Homo sapiens: one gene and its partners. The protein of the gene in region 2 interacts with the protein of the main gene of each other region in a biochemical or structural test. Each region holds a gene or a part of one and is shown on either strand. Other genes may lie near its edges. The genes, in order: SMURF1, UBE2L3, TRIP12 and WWP1.

Region 1 (8,162 bases), on a different chromosome or scaffold from region 2:
ACAAAAGTATTCAAATTTTGAAAGATTGCTTCTCAACATCCCAGAAGTGAGAATTCAAACTTCCCTTAACCAGAAAGATGAGACTAAAACCTATTCCACCGTCAACAAACTTCTAGTTCAAACCTTTCGAGGTAAACTAAGGTTCCACGTACTGGCATTGCATGTGTACCATTACCGCTAAACCGCAATCCTATTGTAAGGATGATCACACTCACAAATCCTCTCAAACCATTCATAACATCTACTGAAAGGGAAAGGGAAAGGGAAAAGGTGTTTCAGAAACAACACTCATCACCTGATCCTTCCCTATCAAATGTCATCCAAAAATTCCTCAAAGCATTCTTGCTTCGATAATCTAAATTCCTAAATCCAAAAATAATTTGGTAGGAGGAGAAACCAAGTCCTCCCTTTCAAGGCTCAGGCTTGGCAAATAGGATTGATTAATATACATACACCAGACATAAACATTTCAATTAAAACCTATTCCTTCTAAAACATTCATCATATTTCTAACACAAAATCAGTTGCTTTCGCTTTTAACAAGATAACTGAAACCAATCTGATGTCAATTACAGACTGAGCTGTAAATCAGAACCAAGTTAAAAGCTTTACAAGTATTACAATCTCAAAAATGTTACTTTTATCTTACCACATAAATAAAAATGTATCTACATTGTATCTACAAAGTGAGAAGCGTTTCCTATCAGCCCTGGCATAAAGAAATGTATTTCCCCAGAAGCAAAGATCCCAGAGGAAACTACCTCCTACGTTACAAAACCAGGGTCTGGGTTTGGGTCCAAATCATTATTTGATATCTTTATACAAAAAAACAAAACCTTCTCTTAAGACAAAAGTTGGGCCATGCAACAACTATGGGCTCTCAAAGTAAATTTTAGTTTAAAAAAATTACCTATTGTTTGCATGGATTTTACCGATGACTTTATGGCTGCGCATCTGCCATAAAGTGTTCAAAACGCTCATTCTCTCTTTGAAAGGACCTGACCAAACCAGGACTTTGGAGTTCTCACCCGACTGAGCCACTGAACAGAAAAATCCAGGGGAAAATCCCTGACGGGGATTAGAATGAACTTTTTAGTTTCCTTCCAGAGCTGGAAATATTCGAGTTTGGAAAGTCCCGGAGCAGAGCCGCATTTGCAACACGGCCATCCTGCTTTAGGGATGAATTGAAACTGGAAAGAGAGTAGTACCAATGAGAGTGAGAAAGGGAAGACGAGGATGCAGCCTGGTCCAGAACCTCTGGAGCCCGGGGGGAAACAGGTTGGCATCACATCCGCGCCACCAAGTCGCAGGCCCGCGGCAGAGCGTTGCGCTCACCCTTGAAGGTGGCACTACAGAGCCACCCAGGAAACACGGACTTTTCATTGAAGACAAAATGAATCAAGGAGCCTGCGTGTGGGCAGCTTCCAAAGCCTCCAGTGAGTGTGGGAGTAGGGATCAGAGCCTCACGGCGCTCTGGGTTGCTGAGTGTGGGGGTGATGGTGAAACAAAATGCAGAAAAGGTAAAAATTGAAGAAGCAGAGTTAAAAGTAGCTAGCGGTCTGGCCTAAGAGACAGGAAGTGGCCCAGACTGAGACTGAAGAGGGCTGGACCAGGGGGAAGTGAAGAGAGCAGGACTGGGAGCAGCTACAAGATAGGATTGAGGAATTTCAGGCTGAAGGAAAGAAAGGGTGGAGGCCTCGCCAGACAGCAGCGAGGGGGCGGGGCTAGGCAGGAATGAGGGCGGGGCTTGAAAGTGAGGGGCGGGGCTAGGGGAAGAAGGGAGGAGGACGGTGTGGGGGGGTGAGGGAGAAACGAAAGAGGATGGGGGAGTGAGAAGAGGGTGGGTGGGGGCAGGAGGGGAGAAGCAAGGGGGCAAGTGGAAGGGGAGGTAGCAAAATAGCTTGGAAGTGGTGGGAAAGACCAGGAGGATGAGGGGAGGGAGCAGGTGGGAGGGAAAACAGGAAAGCAAGAGAGATGATGGGAAAGTGGTGAGAAGTGAGGGATGGGACCAGGGGAACAGAGGCAAGGCCAGGAGGGAAAAGCGAGGGGGCAGGTGGGCGGAGAGGATGGGAAGCGAGGAGAAGGAGGGAGGGGGTAAAAACGGCGGAGGAGAAAAAAAGGAGAGAAGCAAGGGGGCGGGACCAGGAAGAAGTGAGGGCCGATGCTAGGAAAGAAGTGAGGAGGCGGGACCAGGAAGAAGTGAGGGCCCAGGCTAGGAAAGAAGTGAGGAGGCGGGACCAGAGAGAAGCGAGGGAGCTGGACGCAGGGAGAAGCGAGGGGGCGGGGACAGAAAGTTAGGAGGCGGGAGCAGAGAGGAGCGAGGGGGTGGGGCCAGAGAGATGGGCGGGGTCAGGTTTGGGGAGGAAAGGTGGGGAAGAGAAAGGACCACAGGGATGGAGGTGAAAGGCAAGGGGGCGGGGCCTGGGGGGAGAAGCGAGGGGTCAGGTGCTAGGGAGAGGAAGGGAAGCGAGAGGCAAGGGGCCGAGCCGGGGAGAGGTGAGGGGAAAGGGCCTGGAAGGAGATGCAAGGGGCGGGGCCAGGAAAAGAGAAGCGAGGGGCGGGGCCAGGGAAGGAGATGCAAGGGGCGTGGCCATGAATGGAAATGAGAGGGGCGGGGCCAGGACGGAGATGCGAGGGGGCAGGTGCGGGGGAACGGGAGGGAACGCGAGACCGAGGGGGCGCGAGCGGCCAGGGGGCGGGGCCGGGCAACGGCGAGGGGGCGGGGCCAGGAGGGAGAAGCGAGGGGCGCACGCCGAAGGGGGTGACGAGGTCCTGGGACAACGGCCGGCGTGGGGGAGGGCCGCTTCCAAGGGCGCCCTGCGGGGAATTCCGGGGCGGGCGAGGGGGCGCCGGGGCGCGGGTGGGCCTCCCGCCGGCCGTACCTGTCAGACGGATCTTGATGCTGGAGCCGTTCCTGCGTGTCCCGGGGTTCGACATCTCCCGCCAACGATCGGGCAGCCGCGGATCCAGCGCCACCGCCCCCCAGCCCGGCCCGGCCCGGCCCCGCCGCCGCCGCCTCAAGGTTACGGCTCCGGGCTGGGCGCCGGGGTCCGAGCCGGGACACAAACTCCGCGGCCCAGGCGTCCGGGCGGCAGGCGGATGGTCGAGCCGGGAGATCGGCGCTTGCTGCGGCGCTCTGACCCTCGCTGCTTCCAGCCGAGCCCAGTCCCGAGCCGCCGCCGCCTCCGCCGCCGCCTCCGCCGCCTCCACCACCTCAGAGCCGGACGCCCGCCGCCCTCGCCGCTTCCGCCGCTGCCGCCGCCTCTCCGAGCCGCGCGCGCGCCCGCCGCCGTGCCGGCCCGGCCCTGCGCGCCCCCGCGCCTGCGTGCGTGCGCGCCCCCGCCACGTACGCTGGGGCGGGGCGGGGTGCGCTGCTACGTCGCCCGCACGCCTGCCTCGGGCGCGCGGGGCCCGGATCCCGCGGGTTGGGGTCTTCACCCTTCCTGTGGTCGGTGGGTGGGAGGGTCTGGCCCCGAGCCCGGGAAGGGAGAGCAGAGCTGGCCCCGGGACCCAGCGCGCGGTCGCCCTCTGTCTTGACCCCTGTCTCTGCGAGGCTCTGGGCTCCTGAGTGACTGAAGAGTGGTTTGCATGAAACCGTGGGCTGTGTCCACACCAAGCTCCTTGCACACAGGCGTGCAATACCAGTTTTTTTCAGTTAAGAGCTTTCGATCGTGCAAGTTCAAGGGAGGGACTTCTCAAAGAGACAAAGCCCTTAGGTGTGTTCTGTGCAACGGGTGTGCTCCACTGACCCATAACAAAGTTGCCAGAATCGCAGAAGTGCCATATACGGACAAGGAAAACGAGATGAGAGGGAGGGATAAAGTTGAGAGGCGGATGTTTGTTATTATCCATTCTGCATACAATTTTACCAAACAAGAAAGTGGCATTGTGGTTTGTGTTCCCATGTCTTCTGCTAAATTTCCCCTTCTCCCGGGGTTGCAGGTTAGAACCAAAAGCTCATGGCTGGGTACGGTGGCTGTAGCCTGTAATCCCAGCACTTTGGGAGGCCGAGGCGGGCGGATCACTTGAGCCCAGGACTTTGAGGCCAGCCTGGGCAACATAGGGAGACTCCATCTCTACAAAAAATACAAAAATTAGCTGGGCATGGTGGTGCGCGCCTGTAGTCCCAGGTACTGGGAGGCTGAGGTGGGAGGATCACTTGAGCCCCAGAGTTCATGGCTGCAGTGAGCTATGATCAGGCCACTGCACTACAGCCTGGGTGACAGAGCTAGACACTGTCTCAAAACACACACACACACACACACACACACACACAGAAAAAGCTCATTATGCGCTTTCTCCAGCAAACAAACTCCTCTCTGTTAGCATGTTATAGAAATAAACTGGTATTATTAGAAAGAGGGAAAACTAGGTTTATCAAACTTGTTTTTTACCCACTACCTTGTTGTTGTTGTTGTTGTTTTTTGAGACAGGGTCTCACTCTGTCACCCAGGCTGGAGTGCAGTGGCACGGTCTTGGCTCACTGCAACCTCCACCTCCCAGGTTCAAGTGATTCTCGTGTCTCAGCCTCCTGTATAGCTGGGATTACAGGCGTTAGCCACCACACCCAGCTAATTTTTGTATTTTTGGTAGAGATGGGGTTTCGCTGTTTTGGCCAGGCTGGTCTCAAACTTCTGAGCTCAGGTGATCTGCCCGCTTCAGCCTCCCAAAGTGCTGGGATTTCAGGCCTAAGCCACCGCTCCCAGACCCCACTACCCATTTTCATGTACAAGTTCTTTTTTATTTTTATTTGATTCTTCATCAATCAACTTGAACAAATTCTTTTAATACTGTGTGTGTGTGTGTGTGTGTGTGTGTCCCAAGGAAAGTAGGCTCTGGGCCATTGCTACCATCCCCTGCAGCCTTGTGCCTGTCCTAAGGTCACAGTCTTCGGAACAGAGCCTTCTACCTAGAGCGCCTAGACATACCTGCCTGCCTGCCCGCCTGCCTGCCTGCCTGCCTGCCTCGGATGACCCTAGTGAAAGCAGAGTCTCTCCTGGGCAGGATTCAAGGCATCACATCTGTCAAATAAAAGGATGGTCCTAGGTCATTTCTATGGCACCTTGCGGCTCTTTCAGTTATCCTCAAGAAAGACCCAAGAATATAAGCAATGTTTAAGCAATAGCAGTAGAGCCACAATCCAGCTGTTTCCATTTGTAGATGATTGTCACAGAGAGTGAATGCCTGGGTCTGAATTAATCCATCCAGTCTCTAATGCTCCCAAGTAATCCCCATTCTTCTGCCAATCCCGTTAGTATTTCCCCCCTATTCAAAGAGTCTCCTCTCTAAACAAAACCAGACATCACTCTCTGCTTACCTGGGTGCAGGCTCCTGTTCTTATCCCCAGGTGTTCCTGACCTGGAAACCTTTCATTGCTTAATTTTGTTGTTTTTCTCCCCGCCCCGACGGCTGGTTCTTCGTTGGCTTGACTGTTTCCTTAATCTTTGAGTCAGGAGGTTGCTTCTGGAGGTTTCTGAAAGGCATTTTGTTCATTCATTAACAAGTACAGATGCTCCTTGATGTACAATGGGGTTACATTCTGATAAACCCATAATATGTTGAAAATATGTCAAAAATGCATTTGCGGAGGCCGGGCATGGTGGTTCATGCCTGTAATCCCAGCACTTTAGGAGGCTGAGGTGGGGGGATTACCTGCGAGCAGGAGTTCGAGACCAGCCTGGCTAACATGGTGAAACCCTGTCAACTAAAAATACAAAAGTTAACTGGGTGTGGTGGTGTGCACCTGTAGTCCCAGCTACTCGGGAGGCTGAGGCACAAAAATCACTTAAACTCGGGAGGCAGAGGTTGCAGTGAGGCGAGATTGTGCCACTGCACTTCAGCCTGGGCAATAGAGCGAGACTGTGTCTTAAAAAAAAAAAAAAAAAAAAAAAAAAAAAAAAAAAAACAACGGAAAATGCATTTACTACACCTAAGCTACCAGCCATTATAGCTTAGCCCAGCCTACCTTAAATGTGCACAGAACACTTTCATTACCATACGGTGGGGCAAAATCATCTAACACAAAGCCTATTTTACGATAAAGTTATTATAAAGAATTTTGAATCAAAATTCGAAATTTGAAGTGTGGTTTCTACTGAATGTGTGTCGCTTTCCTACCATAACATCAAAAAATCGTAAGTCAAACCGTCATAAACTGGGACCATTTGAAATTGCTAGATATACCCAATAGTATCTTTCACCACAGCTGCACAAAGGGGACCTTCCTACCTGGAAGCTCATGTTTTACTCATTCGGCAAACATTGGCCACCTGCTATGTGGCTAGGAACAAGGAATACAAAATAAATCTATTACAGCTTCAGCATTCCAGAGGGTCAGTTAACTGGATGAAACAGACATGAGCAACTGACAATGATACAGTGATGGGGATGTGTATAGCAGGCTAGAACATAGATGACAGAACAATTCTACATAAGAAGAGAAATGGAGACATCTCGAGTCACAGATGATCTTAATCTAGAGCTTAAAGCCAACGTTCAAGTTTGCTGGGCAAAGTGGTGAGGAAGGGCATTATAGATAGAAGGAACAGCTGCACAAAGGCATGAACGTGAATGGCATTTTCCAGCACCATTTTCAATAAAAATGTACTTATGGAGCTGCTTGTATACTCTATCCATACAACTTACTCCATTAAAAGTTGATAAAAGTCCGGGCACAGTGGCTCACGCCTGTAATCCCAGCATTTTGGGAGACCAAGGCGGGTGGATCACCTGAGGTCAGGAGTTTGAGACCATCCTGGCCAACATGGTGAAACCCCATCTCTACTAAAAATACAAAAATAACCTGGGTGTAGTGGCAGGCGCCTGTAATCCCAGCTACTCGGGAGGCTGAGGCAGGAGAATCTCTTGAACCCGGGAGGCGGAGGTTGCAGTGAGCTGAGATTGCACTGCTGCCCTCCAGCCTGGGCGATAAGAGCAAGACTCTATCTCAAAAAAAAAAATTTTTTTTTTTGATAAAAGCCTGGGCAACATAACGAGACCCCCATCTCTACAAAAAATTTAAAAATTATCTGGGTGAGGTGGTGCATGTCTGTAGTCCCAGCTACTCAGGAGGCCAAGGTGGGAGGATGGCTTGAGCCCAGTAGCGCAAGGCTGCAGTGAGCTATGATTGTGCCACTGCATTCCAGTCTAGATCACAGAATGAGACCCCATGTCTTTAAAAAAAAAAAAAAAGTTGATTAAAAATAACAAAAAGCATTTGCCCACTTAAAAATCATCAGACGCTATCATATTGAACTTAAGATATATCATCTTCCCTTCCTTTCATCATGTATCACATTCCTCGAAAATACAATCTTCTAAAGCTATCTGGAACAAACAGATGCAAAATGTCAAACAATTCTGCTGAAACAGAGATGGAACTCGGTGAGCCTCCTCAAGTGTCCTCTTTGCAATGGCTTTACACAGAGCAGTTTTGACCCTGCTTTCTAGGTAGCATTTGACTGCTTTTATTTCCCAGAAATGTATCAGTTCCCTGAGTCAGTGTTATTGGGCATTTGAAATATTTTCCAGTGGGCAAATCTGTCTTTGGATCTGACTGCAGTAGTTCTTAACCAGTTTCTGAGTCCCAAACCTCTTTGACAATCTGATGGAAACTCTGGACTCCTTCCTCCAGAAAAATTCATATGTGCAAATACACATCAAAATTTGCCTCTGATTTCAGTGGGTTTATGATCACCTGAAACCAATTTATGAATCCTGTAAGGGCCTGTAGTCCCTAGATTAATAACTCCTTATTTATTCTTTAAAAGAGAGGGTCTCACTCTGTCACCCAGGCTGGAAGGCAGTGCCATCATCATGGCTGACTTCAGCCTCGAACTCCTGGGCTCAAGCAATCCTCCCACCTCAGTCTCCCAAGTACCTGGGACTACAGGCATGTGCCACCAAACATACCTGGCTAAATTTTTTTATTTTTTATACACACAGGGTCTCACTCTGTCGGCCAGGCTAGTCGCCTCAAGTGGTCCTCCTGCTTTAGCCTCCCAAAAGGGCTAAGATTACAGGCATGAGCCACCGCACTCAGCCCAAGAACCGTTTTTTTTTTTTTTTTTTGAGACGGAGTCTTGCAGTGTCGCCCAGGCTGGAGTACAACGGCACCGTCTCGGCTCACAGCAACTTCCACCTCCCAGATTCAAGCGATTCTC
Region 2 (7,823 bases):
AGTGTAGTATATGTAAATCACTCTACTTTTAATAATGTGTTTTACACTATCTGCAGACAGTCCATTGTTACAAAGAAATCTTTGCTGTGGAATGTCCTAGAAAACATTTTTAACAGAAATCTAAAGTTCTTTAAGATGTAATTAATTTGATCATTCAACATTTGCTAGATTGCTATGCCTAAGGCACTGTTCCATGCACTAAGCCCCAACTTTTCACCAACGAAAATCACTTTATTACCACCCTATGTACTGAAAAGACTGTTTATCAACTTGTATCAATAATTTTTCTTCCTTTAAAAGAAAAAAAAAACAGTCTTAAACATTGATTCTCACAGCCAATGATCAGCATTACATAACTGGTGTTCCCCTAGTGAACTGAAAGCCTTTCCATCCTCAACTTAAGAAACAACACACCGCTCCATGCAGCCTTTGAGTAAGAAAGACAGCCTGACAAGAGGCATGGAATTTGGATCCTGGAGCCAGGAAGAGTCAGCGTCTTCTCTCTCCCCACCACGTTCCACAATTCTACCTTAGGTAACTCCCTTAACCTACTTAACCTCACAATGTCCTCATTTATAAAAAATACAAATGACAATACACTAACTTTGAGTGTTGAAAAGATGACTTACGTAAATAACCTAATACTTAATAAATACTCAGTTAATGTTACAATTTTTTTCCAAGGTCTGTTTTTTTTTAGAAACAGAGTAATAATTTTAAAACCATAATAAGTCCCCTCTTAGACCCCTGAGAGCCTGGAGATTCCAAACTGGGTCAACTGGGATAGGCTAGGGGGCTACCAGGATGAATTAGGTCAAGATCCCTGCCCTTCGGGATCTCAGAACCCAGTACAGGAAAGACAAGTCTGTAACACAAAGAGATTGTGACAAGTGCTCAAAGAGAAATATAAAGAAAGCGCTGTGGTCACACAAAGGAGGAAACAACACATTCTGAAGGGGGATGTGGGAGCACGGGCTCACAGAGTAGTTGGCACTGGAGTTGAACCTGGGACTTCTCTGGAAGGGAGAAGTGAGGAGAAGGCAGCTTTTCTTGGGTAGAGCAAACAACACGTGCAAAGGGACATCAGACAGCAAGTAAGAGCAGGAGACTTTGCTTTGGAGAAAGAACCGAATTCGATCACAACTCACTCTCCCTAGCTAGGTAACCCTGGGCAAGCCAAAGAATCTTTTCTCATCGACAAAATGGAAATCACAATGTCTACTTCACAGGAAGGATTAAACATGATCATGCATATAAAGCACGAAGTAAAAGCTGGAAAAATAGTAGCTACTGTGATTAGGTGCAAGAACTGTGGGAAACCAAAGGGCAGGAGGTGAGGCTCAAGGGATTGCTTTCAGCCAGTCTCAGAAAGGTCCTGCATGCCAAGTAAGAGGTTAGGATTAACTGCTGAGGACAATAACACCATAGAGGTTTTTAACAGGAGTGAAAGAATTGAGTTATCTGCTTTAAAAGAACTCTGGTGTCCGTCAGGGGTAGTCTGGGGAGGAGAGCACTTGGGAGGGCACCTGAGAGATGAGGATATAGATTCAGAGTAATTTCAGTAACATTAGAAAGCAAGGCATGCACTCCAGAAATCTTTTTTTTTTTTTTTTTTTTGACATGGAGTCTCACTCTGTCGCCCTGGCTGGAGTGCAGTGGTGCAAACTTGGCTCACTGCAACCTCCACCTGCCGGGTTCAAGCGACTCTTCCACCTCAGCCTCCCGGGTAGCTGAGATTACAGGCAAATGCAACCACGCCCAGCTAATTTTTATATTTTTAGTAGAGACAGGGTTTCACCATGTTGGCCAGGCTGGTCTTGAACTCCTGACCTCAAGTGATCCGCCCGCCTCGGCCTCCCAGGAGTGCTGGGATTACAGGCGTGAGCCATCGCGCCCGGCCTGCACTCCAGAAATCTTTCTAAATTTAAATCCACAAGGGTTAATGGACGACTGCACCTGGGAGTAGGGTAGGAAAGAAAGCCATTAACCGACCCCTTATCTGGTGAATGGTGGTGTCACTAGCTTAAGAGATGAGGAGAGGTCTGAAGTCCTCTGACTGTTCTTTTGTGCCCACTTCCACTCCAGTTTTATAAAGTTAATGTCCTCTCTAGCCCTTAGGGAACAAAAGAAAGGAAACGTTCCCAGGGACGGAGGGAATGCTCAGAGACTGTGGCTCCAAGTTCAATGTCTAGCTCTACCAAGCACTGCTCCGCCTAGAACGAACCCCAGCTCTTTATCTCCCCTCAGGAAACTGGCTCCTGGGCCTTTTTTTAATTTCCGGCCCGTTGCAGGCCGGCAGCACTACCCAGCCGCCGACTCACAGATGCTGGCGGGGTGGGCTACAGAGGACCTTGGCAAATCCACTGGCAAAAGTACTAAGCCAATTTAGCATGTGTTCCTCACCAAAAGGTGCCAATTAGCGAGAAAGCACCCTGCTGCATTCAAGATCCAAAGTACCAAATTATTATTATAAACTTTGGCCCGTTTTGATTCGAACGACTGAAATCAACCGTTATCCCCCCAAAAATGGCACTTTATCAGGGAGGGGAGATCGGGATGACTGAGTGGAGGAGAGGGAAGCAGAACCGCGCCGCGATCGGGGCCGACCTCAGGCCTTCCTGGAGTTGGAACTTACCCGCTGTGTGACTCTGCAGTCACAAGGCGACAGTTTGCTAGGACCCAGCGCAATTCCAAACGACCCACCAACAAACTGACCTAACTTTGGCCGCCTGGCCTCCTTCTCTCTTTCCTAGCCCGAACCTCCCAGACTCCCGAGCTGCGGCCGGGCCAAGCGGAGCTGCAAGCCCGGCGCGCTGCGGCCCAGGGCGGGGCGGTTCCGCGGCGCGGGCTCCGGGCAGGGGCTCCGGCGCTCGGGCCTTCCCCGAAGGCGCCCGGTTTGGAGCCTCCCAACCGGGCTCTCACATTAACGACGCCCTCAGATCGGACCGCGGCCTCCGCGACAGGGGGACGCGGCCAAGCTCCGGGCGGAGAGTGGCGTGAACGCCCCGGGCCGGGCTGAGGGGCCGACAGCGGCTCCCAGCGCGGCCTTGCGCTCCCGCCCAGGCTGCGGCCTAGGCCAGCCCCGTTAGCACCTTGAGCCTGCGCGCGGCCCAGGGAACCGACGAGGCCGTGTAGGGCAGGAAGCCAGACGGCAGCGCCCTGAGAAGCCGCCGCCTGCCTCGGGGATCCGGAGCCTAGGACGCCGCCCCACGCCCGGCCGCTGCCAGAGAATGGCTTTTACCTTCATCAGCCTCCTGCTGGCCGCCATCTTGGATTTGGTGCTGCTCCTTCCCCAGAATGCATCGCGGCCGGCCGGGCGGCTGGAGCCCCCGCACTTCCTGGAGCGGGGGAGGGGCCGCGGGGCGGGGCACAGGAGCAGAGCGGAGCACCTACTGTGTGCTTCCCACTGTGCTGGGGGGCGCGTGGAGGAACGCAAGTGAACCGCACAGACTGGGCCTCAGCGTTTACGGATCGTCCAATCAGATGGCAGTTACAACCAGTGCCTGGCACATAGTAGGAGCATAATAAATACTGATTGCATAAAATAGTTGACCAGGCGCGGGGGCTCACGCCTGTAATCCCAGCACTTTGGGAGACCGAGGCGGGTGGATCACGCGGTCACGAGTTCGAGACCAGCCTGGCCAACGTGGTGAAACTCGGTCTCTACTAAAAATACAAAAAATTAGCCAGGCGTGGTGGCGGGCGCCTGTAATCTCTGCTACTCAGGAGGCTGAGGCAGGAGAATCGCTTGAACCCGGGAGGCAGAGGTTGCAGTGAGCCGAGATCTTGCCACTACACTCCAGCCTGGGTGACAGAGGAAGACTCCGTCTTGGGGGAAAAAAAAAAAGTTGAATAACCAAGGTTACTTCACACTGCCAAGCTCTGTGAAGAAAACTGGGTGATAGGAAAGTGACTGTGGGGACATACTTTGAGAGGTCAAGGAAGCCAAATTGAGGAAATGGCCCTACTAAGTGCCAGACCTCTCTCTAGTGCTTTATTTTCTTTAACCCTTGAAACCATCCTCTGGGATACGTTAGCATTAACATCCTCATTTCACAATAAACAGAAGCACAGAAGAAGCCAGTGACTTGCCCAAGGTCACACGGCCAGCTAGGAGCAGAGCCAGGCTCCTGTCACAGGTGGGCTGCTGGCTCCAAAGCCAATGCTGGGACCTGGAAAATGGGAAGGAACAGCTGGGAGGACTGGAGGAGAATGTTTCAAGCAGAGGAAGCAGCACTGGCGAAGACCATGAGGCTGTCTCAGTGTCCAGAATGGAGTAAAAGGATTATAGGGTGGGAGGGAGGCAGGGGACAGACCATGGAGGGTCTTGTAGAAAGGGGAGGAGTTGGTTTCTATTCCATGTGCTGTGAGAGGTCTTTGATAGATATGAGTATTGACTCCATGGTCAGATGATTTTTTTTTTTTTTGAGACAGAGTCTTGATCTGTCACCCAGGCTGGAGTACAGTGGCACGATAACAGCTCACTGCCGCCTCGACCTCCTAGGCTCAAGGGATCCTCCTGCTTCGCCTCCCAATTAACTGGGACTACAGGCACGTTCCACCACACCCTCCTAAGTTTTTTTTTATTTTTTGTAGAAATGAAGTCTCACTGTCTTGCCCAGGCTGGTCTCAAACTCCTGAGCTCAAGCAGTCCTCCCGCCGCAACCTCCCAAAGTGGTGGGATTACAGGCATGAGCCACCACACCTGGGCTGAGACGCATGTTTTAAAGAGTACTTTGGGGCTTGGCACAGTGGCTGATGCCTGTAATCCCAGCACTTTGGGAGGCTGAGGGGGGTGGATCACTTGAGGTCAGGAGTTTGAGACCACCCTGACCAACATGGTGAAACTCCGTCTCTACTAAAAATACAAAAATTAGCCAGGTGTGGTGGTGGGCGAACGTAATCCCAGCTACTCTGGATGCTGAGGCAGGAGAATCGCTTGAACCTGGGAGGCAGAGGTTGCAGTGAGCCAAGTCCGCGCCACTGCACTCCAGCCTGGGCGACAGAGTGAGACTCCATCTTAAAAAAAAAAAAAAAAAAAGGAGTACTCTGATTGGAAAATGGGGAATGGAGGTGGGTAAGAGGATAAGAAGGGGAGCAGGGGCCACTTGGAAACCGGTTGCAATCATTCAGGCAAAGAGGTGACAGTGGTTTGGACCTCAGGTAGCAATGCAGAGAGAAGAACATAGCTTCAGAATATACTCAGACCTTCTTAAGGAGTTTTTCTCTTTTTTTTTTTTTTTTTTTTTTTTTTTTTTGAGACACAGTTTCACTCTGTCACCCAGGGTGGAGTGCAAAATGGCATGATCTCAGCTCACTGTAACCTCTGCCTCCCGGGTTCAAGTGATTCTCCTGCCTCAGCCTCCTGAGTAGCATAGATTACAGGCACCTGCCACCATGCCCAGCTAATTTTTGTATTTTTAGTAGAGACAGGGTTTTAGCATTTTTGGCCAGGATGGTCTTGAACTCCTGACCTCAAGTGATCCACCCACCTTGGCCTCCCAAAGTGCTGGGATTATAGGTGTGAGTCACTGGGCCTGGACATTTTTCTCCATTTCTAAGAACAGTGGGTTTCTCCTGAAAGGAGAGAAGGAAAGGGAACTGGAAATAATATATCCTGGGGCCGGGTGTGGTGGTTCACACCTGTAATCCCAGCACTTTGGGAAGCCGAGGTGGGTGGATCACGAGGTCAGGAGATTGAGACCATCCTGGCTAACACGGTGAAACCCCATCTCTACTAAAAATACAAAAAATTAGCCGGGCGTGGTGGCGGGCGCCTGTATTCCCAGCTACTCGGGAGGCTGAGGCAGGAGAATGGCGTGAACCCGGGAGGCGGAGCTTGCCGTGAGTGGAGATAGCTCCACAGCACTCCAGCCTGGGTAACACAGCAAGACTCAGTCTCAAAAATATATATATATAGATATATATATCCTGGAATAAGGCTGGCCTCACACTCATCTTGGGAGCCCAGGCTTGACACGGTAAAGGAGGGAGAAACTAGATGACAAGCCTCATGTGATCAGCGATTCTGCCTGCCTTTTACCTCCCCCAAGGCCAGTACACTGAGTGTTCAATACACATTCAGCGTATGCATGAGGGACCCCATCAGATCTCTAGGGTCATGGTGGGACTTAGAAGTCTGGGACTGACTCTGGGGTCTACTGTGAGCACAGAACCTGCCCTTACTGGGCCCAGGACAAATAAAAAACATAGCTGTATTGGGAACTGCTTTCCTCTGTGGAGAATTACGGAGGAAGGGGACGCTTACGCTGAGAAATTCCAAGCCAGTTGAGGAAGCACAGTTCATACCTTTGACCCGGATGTGCTAAGCTGAGAATACAGAGTGGGATCATCAGAGGCTCAATGTCAAGGACTAGCCTTTGCCATGGCATCTTCTTACATCCTCACCGCTGCCTGCAAGATGACTCCCTTGCACTTTGCAGGTGGGGAGTCAAGCCGCTGAGCTACAAAGTGCTTTTACTAAACAAGCACTCAGGAAATGTACCCAGTCCCAGTGGAAGGGCTGCCTGGCCTTTGGGGTCCCTCTCCTGCTCTAAAACCTTCATTGCTCCCTCTAGCAGGCCTGGCTTCTAGTCATACCCGATCCCCTCCACTCAGCCAAACCTTGTTCATACAGACCTATCCTTTCTGTGCCATCTGCCCAAGCCTCCCATCAGAAGTAACCTTGTGGTGACTCATGCCTGTAATCCTAGCACTTGGGGAGGCCAAGGCAGGAGGATTGCTTGAGCCAAAGAGTTTGAGACCATCCTGGGCAACATAGGGAGACCCCGTCTCAACAAAAAATAAAAAAAGAATTAGCCAGGTGTGATGGCCAAGTAATTCTAGCTACTTGGGAGGCTGAAGTGAGAGGATCACTTGGGCCCGGGAGAGTGACACTACAGTGAGCCGTGATCGTGCCACTGCACTCAAGCCTGTGTGAAAGAGTGAGACCATGTCTCAAAAAAAAAAAAAAAAGAAAGAAAGAAAAGAAAAAGAAGTAGACTTTTTTGGCTGCGTACAGTCTCACACCTATAATCCCAGCACTTTAGGAGGCTGAAGCGGGAGAATTACTTGAGGCCCGGAGTTCAAGACCGGCCTGGGCAACATAGAAAGACTACCATATCTACAAAAATAAATAGTCCAGGTGCAGTGGCTCACACCTGTAATCCCAGCACTTTGGGAAGCTGAGGCAGGCGGATCACAAGGTCAGGAGTTCGAGACCAGCCTGGCCAACATAGTGAAATGCCGTCTCTACTAAAAATACAAAAATTAGCTGGGTGTGGTGGAGGGTGCCTATAGTCCCAGCTACTTGGGAGGCTGAGGCGGGAGAATCGCTCGAACCCGGGAGGGGGAGGTTGCAGTGAGCCGAGATCACACCATTGCACTCCAACCTGGGTGACAGAGTGAGAGTCCGTCTCAAAAAAAAAAAAAAAGTATTAATTTTTTTTTTTTGAGACGGAGTCTCGCTCTTCGCCCAGGCTGGAGTGCTGTGGCGCGATCTCGGCTCACTGCAACCTCCGCCTCCCGGGTTCACGCCATTCTCCCGCCTCAGCCTCCTGAGTGGCTGGGACTACGGGAGCCCGCCACCACGCCTGGCTAATTTTTTTTTTTTTTTTGGTATTTTCAGTAGAGATGGGGTTTCACTGTGTTAGGCAGGATGCTCTCGATCTCCTGAGCTCGTGATCTGCCCGACTTGGCCTCCCAAAGTGCTGGGATTATAGGCGTGAGCCACCACACCCGGCCAGTAATAAATTTTTTTTTTTTTTTTTTTGAGACGGAGTCTTGCCCTGTCGCCCAGGCTGGAGTGCAGTGGCGCAATCTCG
Region 3 (7,783 bases), on a different chromosome or scaffold from region 2:
ATTTGGAATATTTGCATGTACATAATGAGATACCTTGGGGATGGGATACAAATCTAAATATGCAATTCATTTATATCTCATATACATGGCGTGAAGGTAATGATATACAGTATTTTCAATAATTTTGTGCATGAAACAAAGTGTATGTACATTGAACCATCAGAAAGCAAAGTTGTCAGGTGTGGAGTCTTCCACTTGCGATGTTCACGGCAACAATCAAAGTTTCAGATTCTGGAGCGTTTTGCATTTTAGATTTTCAGGTTAGGGATGTTCAACCTGTATATATTACACTCTGATCTATGAAGCAGAAAGGTCTAAGAAAATTGCCAAACACAAAATGTCATTTCTACTACATTTCACCAAGATAAATTAACTCAACATTCAAGGAAGCAGTCAACCCCTAGTAAGTTCAATGTATGACTATATACTAAGTAGAAAATAAAAGACAGGAATATAAGTTCCTGCCATCTATTTTTTAACAGAAACAACATTAAACAGAGAAATAATGTATGTAACTCTTAATGTAAATTTCTCCCAAATATACATATATAACACACGAAACAAATATATGGAAAGTACCTCTAACTACAAGGTATCTCTCGATGGCTTGTACCAAAGCCAGAGGGTCAATCTTGACAGGTCCACCCTTCCACTGCTTCACATTTGCACAGTCTGGATGCCTTTGTAACTGGCATTTTAATTGATGTGTGTTGAAAAATTTTAAAGCCTGTGATCCTCTGTTGAGAGAAAAGCTCAAGATAATTTGTGAAAAAAAAGTTAGTCTATTATTTTCACATTTAATATACATTAATTCAAATAAAGGCAAGTTAATACAAACTGCATTTTCATAAGACACACTAGTACTAAGCATTTACTTACCAGTTCTGTGAATGGTAAAGCCAATAATTCAAGTTATTTAGAAAAAATTTTTATACGTAAGAAATAAAAGACGGATGTGTATGCATGCATATGAAAACCTTAAGTCAATATTTGATCTCTGTCCCATCATAAATCCATGGGAGCAGAAATACTTCACCCATGAATATTTAATTATTTTTCTGGAACAAAAATTCCTGAACTATTTAAGCACACTCACTTCTGCAATATTTTGCCCATTCCTATTGAATTATATTTTTTAAAAAGAAAAAAAAAACTCTTTATTTCAAAGATTTCAGCTACAATATTACATTAAAAACTAACCTTTAAAATTTACCTTGCTATAATAGTTTTGAACGAAGCGGTTTAATAGCTACTGCAGTTGAAACCTGGTCATGATGTTTAATTGCTCATTTCAGAAAAGCTCTGGCAGGAGTCAGATACAAACTTAAACTGTGATTATCTGTATGATTCCACAAAGCAAGCTTGTCCAACCTGCGGCCCACAGGCCACATGCAGCCCAGATGGCTTTGTATATAGGCCAACATAAATTCGTAAACTTTCTTAAAATACAATGAGTGTTTTTTTTTTTTAAGCTCATCAACTAACATTAGTGTTGGTGTATTTTATGTGGCCCAAGACAATTCATCTTCCAATATAGCCCAGGGAAGCCAAAAGATTGGACCCTCCTGCACATAAAGCACACAAATAGGGATGTGGAGAATATTCCATTTTATGAATATATACATATGCAAACATATTTTATATAAATTTGGACACAAAAAGCTTCATGATTTTCTCAAGCACAGGTCAAAATGCCCCCTTATTTCATGAACTCCTCCAGGAAATCATAACGATCAAAACTGAATACCACACACTACATTAAATTTCAAAGCAGAAAAGAAACCCTAGTCCATGATGTGATTGCTTTATCACTCAAAAATGCATATGGTTTTTAATTCAAACAAAGTTTTTTAAATGTTTTTAAAACGTCAAAATGTGGATTTAAAAACCAAACTAGGCTGAGTGTGGTGGCTCAGAAATCCCAGCACTTTGGGAGGCCAAGGCAGGAGGATCACTTGGGCCCAAGAGTTTGAGACCAGCCTGGGCAACAAAGTGAGACCCCGTCTCTACAAAAAATAAAAAAATTAATGGAACATGGTGGCACATGCCTGTGGCCCCAGCTACGTGGCAGGCTGAGGCAGAAAGATCTCTTCAGCCAGGAGGTCAAGGCTGCAGTGAGCCATGTTCACACTAGTGTAATTTGGCTTGGGCAACAAAGTAAGACTCTGTCCCAAAATAAATAAATAAATAAATAAATAAATAAAAACCAAACAAATTTCCTATTTTCTAGGCCTCCGGTCAAAATATTCCATGAAACTTGTAACATTCCACAACATAGAACAATTCTTTCCTGTAGCACCTCAAGAGTCCTTAAAACTACATTAAAAATATATATATTTATTAAACTAGTAAAACTTCAAACATTTGACCCCATCAAAATACAAAGTTATAGCCACTAATATTACATATAAATCATATCGCTCAAAATGTAAACATTACTCACAGCCACAAAAAATTTTTTATCCCTACTGAAGTTAAACATAAAGTTCTTAAGGAAGTTTTGTATGCTGAAGTGTATCAATTTAAGGAAAACTAAGCCTATTACAAGTTACAAATACAATCACTGGATTATATATTTATAAAGCATCCTGTTTAAGGCATATGGTATAATTTTAAAGATAAGAAAGCATTTGATTCATTCTTTAGAGTGCTTAATTTCTTTCATCATTACAGCTGAATGTTTTCTGGGCCAATCAAGACTTTACCAGACCTCTTGCCATCTTACTTCAGTGAAATTAAGTACCAAATTCCAGTGGCAAGGGTATAGCCAGGCAATGGTCCTTACCTGCCTCCTGTCCCATTTCCACTAGGGAAATCATGTACTTTGACTGGAAATTGTTCCATCTGGCTGAGGCAGTTGTTCATCTTGTGAACTAATGCCAACAAAGGTGCATTACCCACTGGTTCCACTCTTCCAATGGGCTCTTCTCCAGGAAGCTAAAGTTATAAATAAACAAACAGGTTAAACAAAGCCTTTTCAAAACAAAAGTCTCCTCAAAGAGAAGATTTAATAAGCAGCTTTATAAAAGAGAATAATTTGTCTATTCATCTTTATCTTTTATGGCAGATTTGGTTTGAACGATGTTACCACGTCAATTATTTCAATAAAGACAACTGTTTTGTACAGCCCACAATCCTGTATTCACAATCTCTACATCCAAAGGCTCTGAAAACACAAGTCACTTGGTGGCAAAATCTGATCCAAACAGACATAAGGCTATTTACAGTCTTTATTTATCTGATTTTAGTAAGAATATTCATGTTATGCTATAAAAATATTTAATGCATATAATATACAGTGCTATTCAGAAACTGCTGGGAATTTTAATGTACTACACACTGTAGGACCTTTGAAACCGACCAAACTCCAGGGGTTTCAGAAAAGAGATTGCACATAATCTTAAGTATGCTGTAAAACTATACATAATACTGTCACGCTTCTAATGAATCTCCAATAAATACTAACTTTGCTTTAGGTTGACTCACAAGTTAAAATACAAGCAATGCTCAAATGCCTCTGAGGACTGCAAGCGCATGGTGAAATAGTGTTAATACATAGGAGAGCTATGCTAAGCCCTATTACACAGATAATAGGGAACGTTTCCAAGTGATGCCTTCTCTTTAAGCCACTGTAAAACAAGGAGAATGCTGTCAACAGCATCCAAGGATTACCCTCTTGCTCTGGCCCACTTAAGAGTGAAGGAAGGGGAGCCACTCTGTGGCTTTGTAATCCACATTATAAACGGTGACATAAATGGTCATTAAGCGCCCTTGATTGGAACTGTTACAACTGTATTTTATGTACAAAACAAGAAAATATAACTCCTCTATCTTATTATAGATGTCTGTTTCACTAAAAGGAACTAATACAAACTTCAATACATTTAAAAACAAATATTGCAAGTAAAATACATTCACAGGTGAGAGACTACTATTAATGGCTCATCCTGCAAGCAAAAAAGACTCAAGATACTTCAATCATAGAAATAGTGACATGGGCTTTGTTAAATCCCCATTTCATTGTTTTACTATTTACTTTGATATACAGAAGTTGAAGGATTCCAACTATGTGAAAACCTAGAAGTTTTCCCTCAATGTCTTGACCAAGACCTGCTGGAAATTATTACTGAGATGAAAATATATGCATTAGTGAGCACTGATTCTTAAAAGATACACAGGCATTATTAGATAACTTACTGGAGAAGAAAAAAATACATGAAGAAATCGCTTTAATCTGATCTCTCTGCTCACAGCATCCTTTTCACTTTTAGATGTCAAATAAAGCAACAGCTGCTTCACAAATCCACTATGTTGGATTTCAAATGATGAAACATCTGACTCTGAGACTATGCTACGGATTTCTACAAGGCACTCAGCTCCACCATCCACCTGAAAGAGTTAGGAAAAGTATTTCTATATTGATTTAAGCAGCACTTAAAAAATACACAACTCACATATCCTCAAAAGGAAATGAATATATTCTCAACGCCCTTAAAAAAGAGGGCAGGGGAGTGGTACAGTCTTAGTAAATCCTTGGAAATTATGATTTTAAACACACACACACACACACTAAATATTTCATGAGGAAAACCAGGAATCCATAATAACATAAGAAGAAAATCTTCATATTCAACCAATGTAGTTTTCTTTAAAAAAGAGTATTTTAAAAGATGAGAACAGAAAACTGAAGAATAAGGGGCTATAACACCAGAATGGAAAGATGAATCAAGAATACAAGGTGTGGCTTTAAATTAATACATTTAAGGTCTCAGCAAAATGAACAATTTCTTGGAAAACATACTACCAAAACTGCTCAAGGTACATCAAAAACATCAAAATAAATAAATAAATAAAAATAAAAATAAGAACAAAAACTGAGAACCAGATGAAACGTAAAACACTTATTAGTAAACCTCTAGCCTCTCCTGCCACTCTGAGACCCCATGTGAAGAGAGGGGCTAAGGAAGGCCTATCATCTATACCTATAGTTGAGGATGACTTAGAAAACAGATGTGCTTGTGAGGACATTTCTGAAGTTTCTTCATTTGTCAAGAATGATGAGATGTGAAGGAAAGAAAGTCAAAGATGAGGTTTCTAGTACATTTAATACAGACTGATGAATCCTGATAGTCAAGGGATAAGTAAAAGAAATGCCAGCACCAAGGGTGTATATAAGGTAAAAGTCGATGTAGGATAGCTAAATCCATAGGAAGCTAGAGAGTCATGAAGGAAAAGAGTAGCAGGAGATGCTGGGAAGAGACTGAAAAAGACCAGCAAAATGCACTGGACACAGCACCTGGAGGTTGAGTTGTTCGGTTGCAGCACAAAGTCTCTGAAGGACATTCAATGCAGGGTTGCTTCCATCCATATTCTCAGAACTGAAATAACGTTCTACAAATTTATGTGCCTGCTCCTTAATCCAACCTTTAATTTTTTCTCTACAAGAAACAAAAAGGAGATATTAAAGTCCCAGTGTATGTAGAAAGGATATAACTTCTGATCAAGGCAAATAGCTGCTACATTTAAAATTCATCCTGGTCTATGCTTACAGTTTAAAAACTCCAGATTCCATAACCAAATTAACTTTCACTTTGAAAATGGGCTACGATGTACCACCTGGAGAACTGTTTAAAAACTTAAAATACACTGCAGGTCATTACATGAATTGTAAACAAAGTGTAATAATTTTTTGGAACCCTGCAATATAACACTTTCCTAAGTGTTCCCTTTACTTCCTAAAGTACATACATATCTGCATTATCCTTAACTTGTGTTTCCTGGAGAGCTGAAGTAAAGATTTACAGACCAGAAACATGCGCCTATTAAGGATGTAATAAGCTATGGCAAATAAGACCCGGCTGCTTAAATTACAAATGCTGATGGCTTCAGAAATCCATTCACTTAATTATTTTTATACACTGAAATTAAGAAAAACAACCAACAAAACCAAAGAGAGCATGTTTATTTTCTCAATGACATTTGGTCTTTTAAAATTTCTTATCTGCAGAGGGAAGTAATCATGTTGGTATGCTACATGCAGAACCCAAAAATAAAACAAGTCCCAAGGACTTAAAAAAAAAAAAAAAGGCTCTCCCCTAAAATCCTGAAGTTCCATTGTAATGGGTAGAGAAATTTTATCATAAAAGATGTGAAGAATGTGGACAGAAAATGTCAGCTTTTCCTTGTCTGGAACAAAACTGAGGAAGAGGTTCCCCAAGGAATACAATGTGGTTTTGAACGTATAAGACTTTCAGCTAGGTATGCTGGAAGGAGTTTCAAAGCACATGACTGGAACTTAGGACAAAGCCAGATGCAGGGTTCATAAACTGAGAAACTACCTAATTCTTGAACTATGCTTTTAAGAACAAATTAAAGTGCTGTGTCTATGTATCGTCTCCACACAATAAACGTACTGGCTGAAATAATGTTTAAGTTTTTCTGATATGGGAATAGAAGAAACATAAAACTCCCCCCACTTCACCTATTATTGGAGATGGTATCCTTTGAGGCAGCCCTGGCAAGGCCACTACCTCCCGCAGTCCGTGCTGGCTCAATGTTGTTGCTGTTGGACTGTGTACTTAACCTTCCCCATGTTTTTGGATTCAAGCTTGCCAGGAAAGAAGATTTAGGTGACTGAGTAGTGGTGGGGCTTTTAGCTATGAAAAGAAAAAAGAACTACAGTTAAGTCATTTTAGTTTAAGTGATGAAAAACAACTGATTTTTAAGATTCACAGTCTTAACAGATTAATTAACTGAAAGAACTAAGAACACTTAGTCCTCAGGAAACTTAGGCATACTTCAAGAGCTACTGGCAGTTTTAATAAAGTACATTTCTGCACCTGCTACCACCCTCCCCTTTACCTCCCCATAGTTTCATCAAAGGGGTTACCTTGATTGTCTACTTTGTCATCATCTCTTGGAGGTGAGTACTTTGGCCTTCTTGGCCCTCGTTTTGGCAGTCGTTTTCTCTTTAGAACATCACTTAATCGACTGTCCATGGGAAAATATGAGATAAGTTTAGCAATTACCACTGTTTTATATCTTCACTCACTGAAAAAGCAAACTAAAATGGCAGAAACAGGGAGTAATAAAATACTGTCAGGCCGGGCGCGGTGGCTCACGCCTGTAATCCCAGCACTTTGGGAGGCCGAGGCGGGCAGATCACGAGGTCAGGAGATCAAGACCATCCTGGCTAACATGGTGAAACCCCATCTCTACTAAAAATACAAAAATTAGCCGGGCGTGGTGGCGGGCGCCTGTAGTCTCAGCTACTGAGGAGGCTGAGGCAGGAGAATGGCGTGAACCCGGGAGGCGGAGCTTGCAGTGAGCCGAGATAGCGCCACTGCACTCCAGCCTGGGAGATAGTGAGACTCCATCTCAAAAAAAAAAAAAATACTGTCATAACAAGGTATGTTCTTGTTTAGTGATTATTTAATGCCAATTCTGTGCCAGTCATGTTCTAGAGGTGTGCAGACACAGCAAATGATTATTCAGAAAATAACTAGCTGTTTAACTATACTGAACTATGAAACATAAAGCCAGATAAGATGACTGATCAATTTTCTATGTGTTCCACTTTAAATAGTAGTATATAAGTACATAAAGCAAATATGCAACACAAAGGAGCAAAATAAAAATAAACGGGTAATCACCAACCTGAAAAAGAATGTTAAATCCACATAACACACTTTTTCCATAACCAAAATGGCCGTGAGTAAAATATACATGACCCTTAGTGTTCATGTTGTCAAAATACTCATCTGCCTCTAACATACTACCCAAA
Region 4 (5,240 bases), on a different chromosome or scaffold from region 2:
ATACAGTTGACACATACCATCCTATTTAGTTGTCAGGGTAGGAAGAGCTAGGTAGTTAACAGAAGTCATCAGGGGAAAAGGTTTTGTTAACCTTTTCATTTTCAACTACTTGGGAAGTACATGGGGGGGGCGGGACAAACAAACAAAAAAAACACTGGTAAGCTGCTTTCCCTGGAAGACAAACAACTAAACTGATCTAACAGATAGAATTGTGTTGCTTAACTGATCTAACAGACAGAATTGTATTGGGCCTGTGAGCTATTCCCTGGGCCATTTACTGGTGGTGGGGGTGGGGGAGTCACCAAAATGAAGTAGCAATATAAACCTGTCTCTGAGCCTCCCTCTTGTCTGTTTCCTCATGAACTGTGTTTTGGGCACAGAGAGTCTTGCACTCCTAATTTCTTTCGGTTAGTCCAGCACAGAACAGGAATGGGAAGGGAAGAAGGGGAGAAGGTGAGTGGGGGACCATATTTCTACAGTTTTTCTGACTGCTACTGGGTAGATAAATCAAGAGCTCTGCCTGTAGGTCTTGGATATCTATAATTGGGTATGAAAAGTGGAAGACCCTGATGAATTCTCCAAAACAAAGCTGGTTTTGTCTCTTGTAGGGTTCTGTGTAGCCTCACCTAGTGCATCGTAATTTCTTACTTGAGGGAGACCAGCACCCTGAAAACGAACTGGAAAGCTGCCTTCTTCAGTCAAATCTGCTAAATCATACCTACAATGAATGATATTCAATAACTTCTGTCATGGCAAAATTTATACAGCAGTGGTACCATTTGTAATTCTAATACTTAACTCTTTTATGGTATACGCAGTCCTTTTTGAAGGCCAGTTTCCCTCTATCACATAACCTGTCACATACATTAGAATTTTTTTTTTAATTCTTTAGGCTTGAAAATTACCAGAGTGTTCATAATAAGGATTTGGAAAAGGAGTCTATTCAACCAAGCAGATCTCTGCCTTTCTTTCGTCTTTACTATGAATTCTGAATAAAATGGAGAACACACTCTCAATATGTAGAAAAATAAAATTTTGGCAAAACAATAATTACTGTTTTTCTGTATGTACTTAGCAGTGAAATATTTATAGGCAACAGATTTTAAGAAGTCAGTTCCATGGCTATTAAAAAATGTTTAAGTTAATGAAATTTACAGTGCATATTAAAAGCATGATACAAATGGAAATTTAAAATTTTGTATTAGGAAGCCCAGTTTGCTAAAAGTAGCATTAATATCATTCACATCAGATTTTAATTTGTTACACATTTTTGTAGTTCAGCAAAGGCCCCTATGATGAAAAACAATTAAAAAGTGTTATGACAAAAATAATTATCTGTGTAAAAAGGGGGAGACCCAAAAGATTTTTCATATGGTTATTTAATTCAGTTAAATAGAACTGTTATGAATTTGAGAGGAATGAAGATATTCAAACACTAACAGAAAATCATTAGCCTTATATTAGAGCATTCAAATGCTTATGTAACTCTTCAATCCATCTGGCTTCATAAAAACCAAAATTTTGAACACAAAAAAGTGGCAGAGTTTACATTACCTTTTGTATGTTCCTAAGTATGAAATTGCATCAATTTATTATGAATTAAATTTGAAAAGCATCACAGATTTAAAAACAAAGTACAAAAGAGCCTGATTCTTTTTAATTCCACAAATACCTAGCATCTCAAAGTAACATGTAAACAAACTTCTATGCTGCTCAATGAATCCTTCCAATTTCGATAATAAACTAAATAGTATTGGATCTAGTATATGACTTTCATGTGTAAGTTATGGTTCTATCCATTACTTTAACAATATTACTGATGTAACAGAGAAAAATTTTCAACTATTGTATTTATTTAAAACAAACTGACAAGTTCAAGCACCTGTCTTCAGAAAAGCCAGCAGCATTTTTTTTTTTTTAACATACTCAAAGTAAGATTTGGCCTAAGCCCTTAATACCTTTCTGAACAGCCATGCAACTAAACACCCTCAGGAGATGTTACATAAGGGAGAGAAGAACATGGAGCAATTTGCACTTTTTCCCCTAGATAATATTAACAAGGTAAAGCAAATCCAGATCTTTATGAATGAATGGCTGTCATGTTTAATACACTTGGAGCTCTATAAAACTAGAGCCACTATCATATATGTTTATATAGATATATATGTATTTTTAATAAAGTCTCTCACTTGCTTCAAAATTTAAGGATGATCTTTTTCCTGGTCAGTCATTTCAAGGGAACAATAAATAAAGTAGAAAAGGATGAACTGTTTTGCATATTTCTGTGGAAGAACGGAAAACATACTTTGAGAGGTTCGGAAAATTCACTGTACAGAATGAACAGCTTATATACACTATCTGTGCAATTTTTCTTGGCTGGGGTATTTAAATGCAAGAGCTCCTCCAAAATAAGAAGCCACATTCATTCTTGTCCAAATCCCTCTGTCTCTTCTATTGCAAAAAGAAGTTTTTCCTTTAGTTGTTCATAACTCTTATATGGTGGTAGATCCAAGCGATTAAAACTGAACAGAAACAAAAACAAAATCAGATGTTTTCAATAAAATGAAAAAAATCTAATAGAATACTTTTCAAAGCACATAGAAATGCTGAATGGATATATGTATACTATATATGTTAAAATTTTGCCAGAAGTATTTAGAGTAATCTAAATTTAAGACTTACATATAAAAACTATTTTAACATCTCCAAGAGGAAAATGGAATTACAAATAATAAGTGTAGCAATATGGATAAAGACAAATTTAAAAAAAAAAAAAAATCCATTTTCTTTTTACTATTCCTGTTACATGTGTCATGAGTCCTCTTAACTTCTCTTAGGATAAGAGTCCATTTCTTTCATCCACTCAGTCACTCATTCATCAGTCATTTACCGAGAATTTTTTATATAACTGATAAGCTAGTGATACAGTGAAGAAAACTAAAATCCCTGTCTTCATGGAATTTACATTCTGGGGTAGAGACAGTCAATTAACAAATATATATGTTTCTTTGTCTTTTCAAATAATCTAACCACATATATAAACTCTTCTAAAATGACACTTTTTCAATCTTGCCATACTCAATTCCATTCTGGTATTAACTGATAAAAATTTTAAAATACTAAAAAATGCTTAAAATAACTATTATTTTTCAGTTTACAAAGGTGGAATAACATTTCGTTTTGTGAGGTACAGCACTGAGTAGCTAGATTAGGATTCGGGTGTTCAGGGTTTTGGTCCCTACAGTAGCAGTGACTAGTGAGATAGCCCTGAGTAAGTCAGAACCCTTCTGTACCTTCATTTTCCCATGTGGAAGGTTTCTAGAGATTATCCAGGTGCCTTCTTACCACTGTCACCACTTTCCATGTGCCCTTGACCCTCCCATGTCAGAGTCAGGAAAGAGCCTTTGAAACAAGGCATCTAAATAAAACAGTGCTGTTCTAAGACTGTATTCTTTGTATTTTAAATGAAGTTAAAGATATTAATAGCAGCAACTAAGCAGACCATATACTGCCCTCCCCTTTATACTTCAAGGTAGAGTATGATAACAAGGTCAGAAAAAAAAATTATTTTTTAATACTTCCTATACAAGACAACCAGTCACTTTCTGTTCTCTTACATCTTTCACATATAGCCTTTGCCAAATTCTGTCATTCTATCTACCAAATATTCCATTTTTTCTCCTGATTATTTATTTGGAGACAGGGTCTGGCTGTGTCGCCTAGGCTACTGTCTCGGCTCACTGCGACCTCGACCTCCCAGGCTGAAGCAATCCTCCCTCCTCCCACCTCAGTCCCTGGAGTGGCTGGGAGTACAGGCGCATGCCACCATGGCCAGCTAACTTTTGTATTTTTTTTTGTAGAGACGAAGTTTTGTCATGTTGCCCAGGCTCCTCCTCATCATTTCTACTGCCACTACATCCCTTTGTATATGCTTCCCCATCATCTCTTACCTGGACCATCAGAGAATTCTTTGGGTCTATTTGTTTTGTTTCTTTTTTACTTTTTGCTAAAAAGACATACCAGTTTATGCCACTCTTCAAAAACTTTTGCTGCTTTCGAGTTGCTATGGGTGGGGAGGGGGCTGTGGTGGGGAAAGGAAGCTTATGCTCTTTGCTGTCAACTTGTTTCATGCTCTAATCCAAGTGAGCAATCCAATTTTGCCTAGCAATCTTAGCCGTGTTCCTCTAATGAATACTTGCCTATTCTCTAACAATTCTCCCAATTCCTTCTTTCTCTCAAAAGTTTTTCCTTTCTTCACTCTTAGCCAGTGACTTCTCCTTATACTTTGAGAAAACAGAAATCAGTGGGTGGTAATTACTTTCCTTTCACAAAATTTGAAATCTATTTTAATTCTCCCTTTGACTCAAAAATCTCTCTCTCAATACACACACACACGCGCGCGCATGTGTGTATACATATGGATCTATCACTTTTATTGAAGGCAGAGGTCTTCAAATTTTGGTCACAGGACTCCTTTTCACTCTTAAAAATACTGTCAACCTTGGCTGGGAGCAGTGGCTCATGCCTATAATCCCAGCACTTTCAGAGGCCAAGGCAGGACAGCTTGAGCCCAGAGTTTAAGACCCACCTGGGACAACACAGCAAAACTTTGTCCCTACAAAAAATTAAAAAATTAGCCAGGCATAGTGGCGTGCACTGGTGGTCCCAGCTACTGAGGAGGCTATGGCAGGAGGATTGCTTGAACCCAGGAGGTTGAGGCTGCAGTGAGTTGTGTCTGTGCCACTGCACTCTAACATAGGTAACACAGCAAGACTCTATCTTGGGAAAAAAAAAATGGATTTCCAACTGCAAAGAGCTTTTATTTATATGAATTATAGCTACTGATATTTACTGGATTAGAAGTTAAAACAGAAGTTTAAAAAATATTAATTCACTTTGATATGAAAATAAACATAACATTTTAATGGGAAAAACCCAACTACTTCCAAAAAAAATAGTGGAAAGAGTGATTTTGTTTTAGTTTTGGAAATCTTTTAAATATCTGGTGTAATAGAAAACATATGGATTTTGATATCTAGTTGTACATTTAATCTATAGCCCCACACAGATAAATAGTTAGAAATGGAGATTACTCATCTTGTCAGGTAATTATGGATATTATTCTTTGATACTAAATTTGACAAGGGAATGCACAATATGGGTTTGAAATCAAGTCAAAGAACACTTTGTACTTTGTTATACAAAATCTACTGTTTCCTCTTCTTGCACTTTTTGATCTT

What was found.
Region 1: the proteins of UBE2L3 (region 2) and SMURF1 form a complex in vitro, tested with the Homo sapiens proteins (12 studies listed by BioGRID, with this or other methods).
Region 3: the proteins of UBE2L3 (region 2) and TRIP12 form a complex in vitro, tested with the Homo sapiens proteins (6 studies listed by BioGRID).
Region 4: the proteins of UBE2L3 (region 2) and WWP1 form a complex in vitro, tested with the Homo sapiens proteins (9 studies listed by BioGRID, with this or other methods).

Annotation. Positions count from the first base shown.
Region 1 is NC_000007.14:99,140,844-99,149,005, forward strand, and holds the start of SMURF1 (E3 ubiquitin-protein ligase SMURF1), read right to left. Parts: upstream 3,266-8,162; 5' UTR 2,938-3,265; coding exon 2,883-2,937; intron 1-2,882. UniProt on the Homo sapiens protein: E3 ubiquitin-protein ligase that acts as a negative regulator of BMP signaling pathway. Mediates ubiquitination and degradation of SMAD1 and SMAD5, 2 receptor-regulated SMADs specific for the BMP pathway.
Region 2 is NC_000022.11:21,563,190-21,571,012, reverse strand, and holds the start of UBE2L3 (ubiquitin-conjugating enzyme E2 L3), read right to left. Parts: upstream 3,300-7,823; 5' UTR 3,269-3,299; coding exon 3,242-3,268; exon of another isoform or gene 2,636-3,241; intron 1-2,635. UniProt on the Homo sapiens protein: Ubiquitin-conjugating enzyme E2 that specifically acts with HECT-type and RBR family E3 ubiquitin-protein ligases.
Region 3 is NC_000002.12:229,792,394-229,800,176, forward strand, and holds part of TRIP12 (E3 ubiquitin-protein ligase TRIP12), read right to left. Parts: intron 6,991-7,783; coding exon 6,890-6,990; intron 6,657-6,889; coding exon 6,482-6,656; intron 5,439-6,481; coding exon 5,297-5,438; intron 4,390-5,296; coding exon 4,198-4,389; intron 2,938-4,197; coding exon 2,786-2,937; intron 753-2,785; coding exon 580-752; intron 1-579. UniProt on the Homo sapiens protein: E3 ubiquitin-protein ligase involved in ubiquitin fusion degradation (UFD) pathway and regulation of DNA repair.
Region 4 is NC_000008.11:86,464,076-86,469,315, reverse strand, and holds the end of WWP1 (NEDD4-like E3 ubiquitin-protein ligase WWP1), read right to left. Parts: intron 2,523-5,240; coding exon 2,423-2,522; 3' UTR 813-2,422; downstream 1-812. Other genes in the region: RMDN1 (regulator of microtubule dynamics protein 1), read left to right, coding at 609-640. UniProt on the Homo sapiens protein: E3 ubiquitin-protein ligase which accepts ubiquitin from an E2 ubiquitin-conjugating enzyme in the form of a thioester and then directly transfers the ubiquitin to targeted substrates.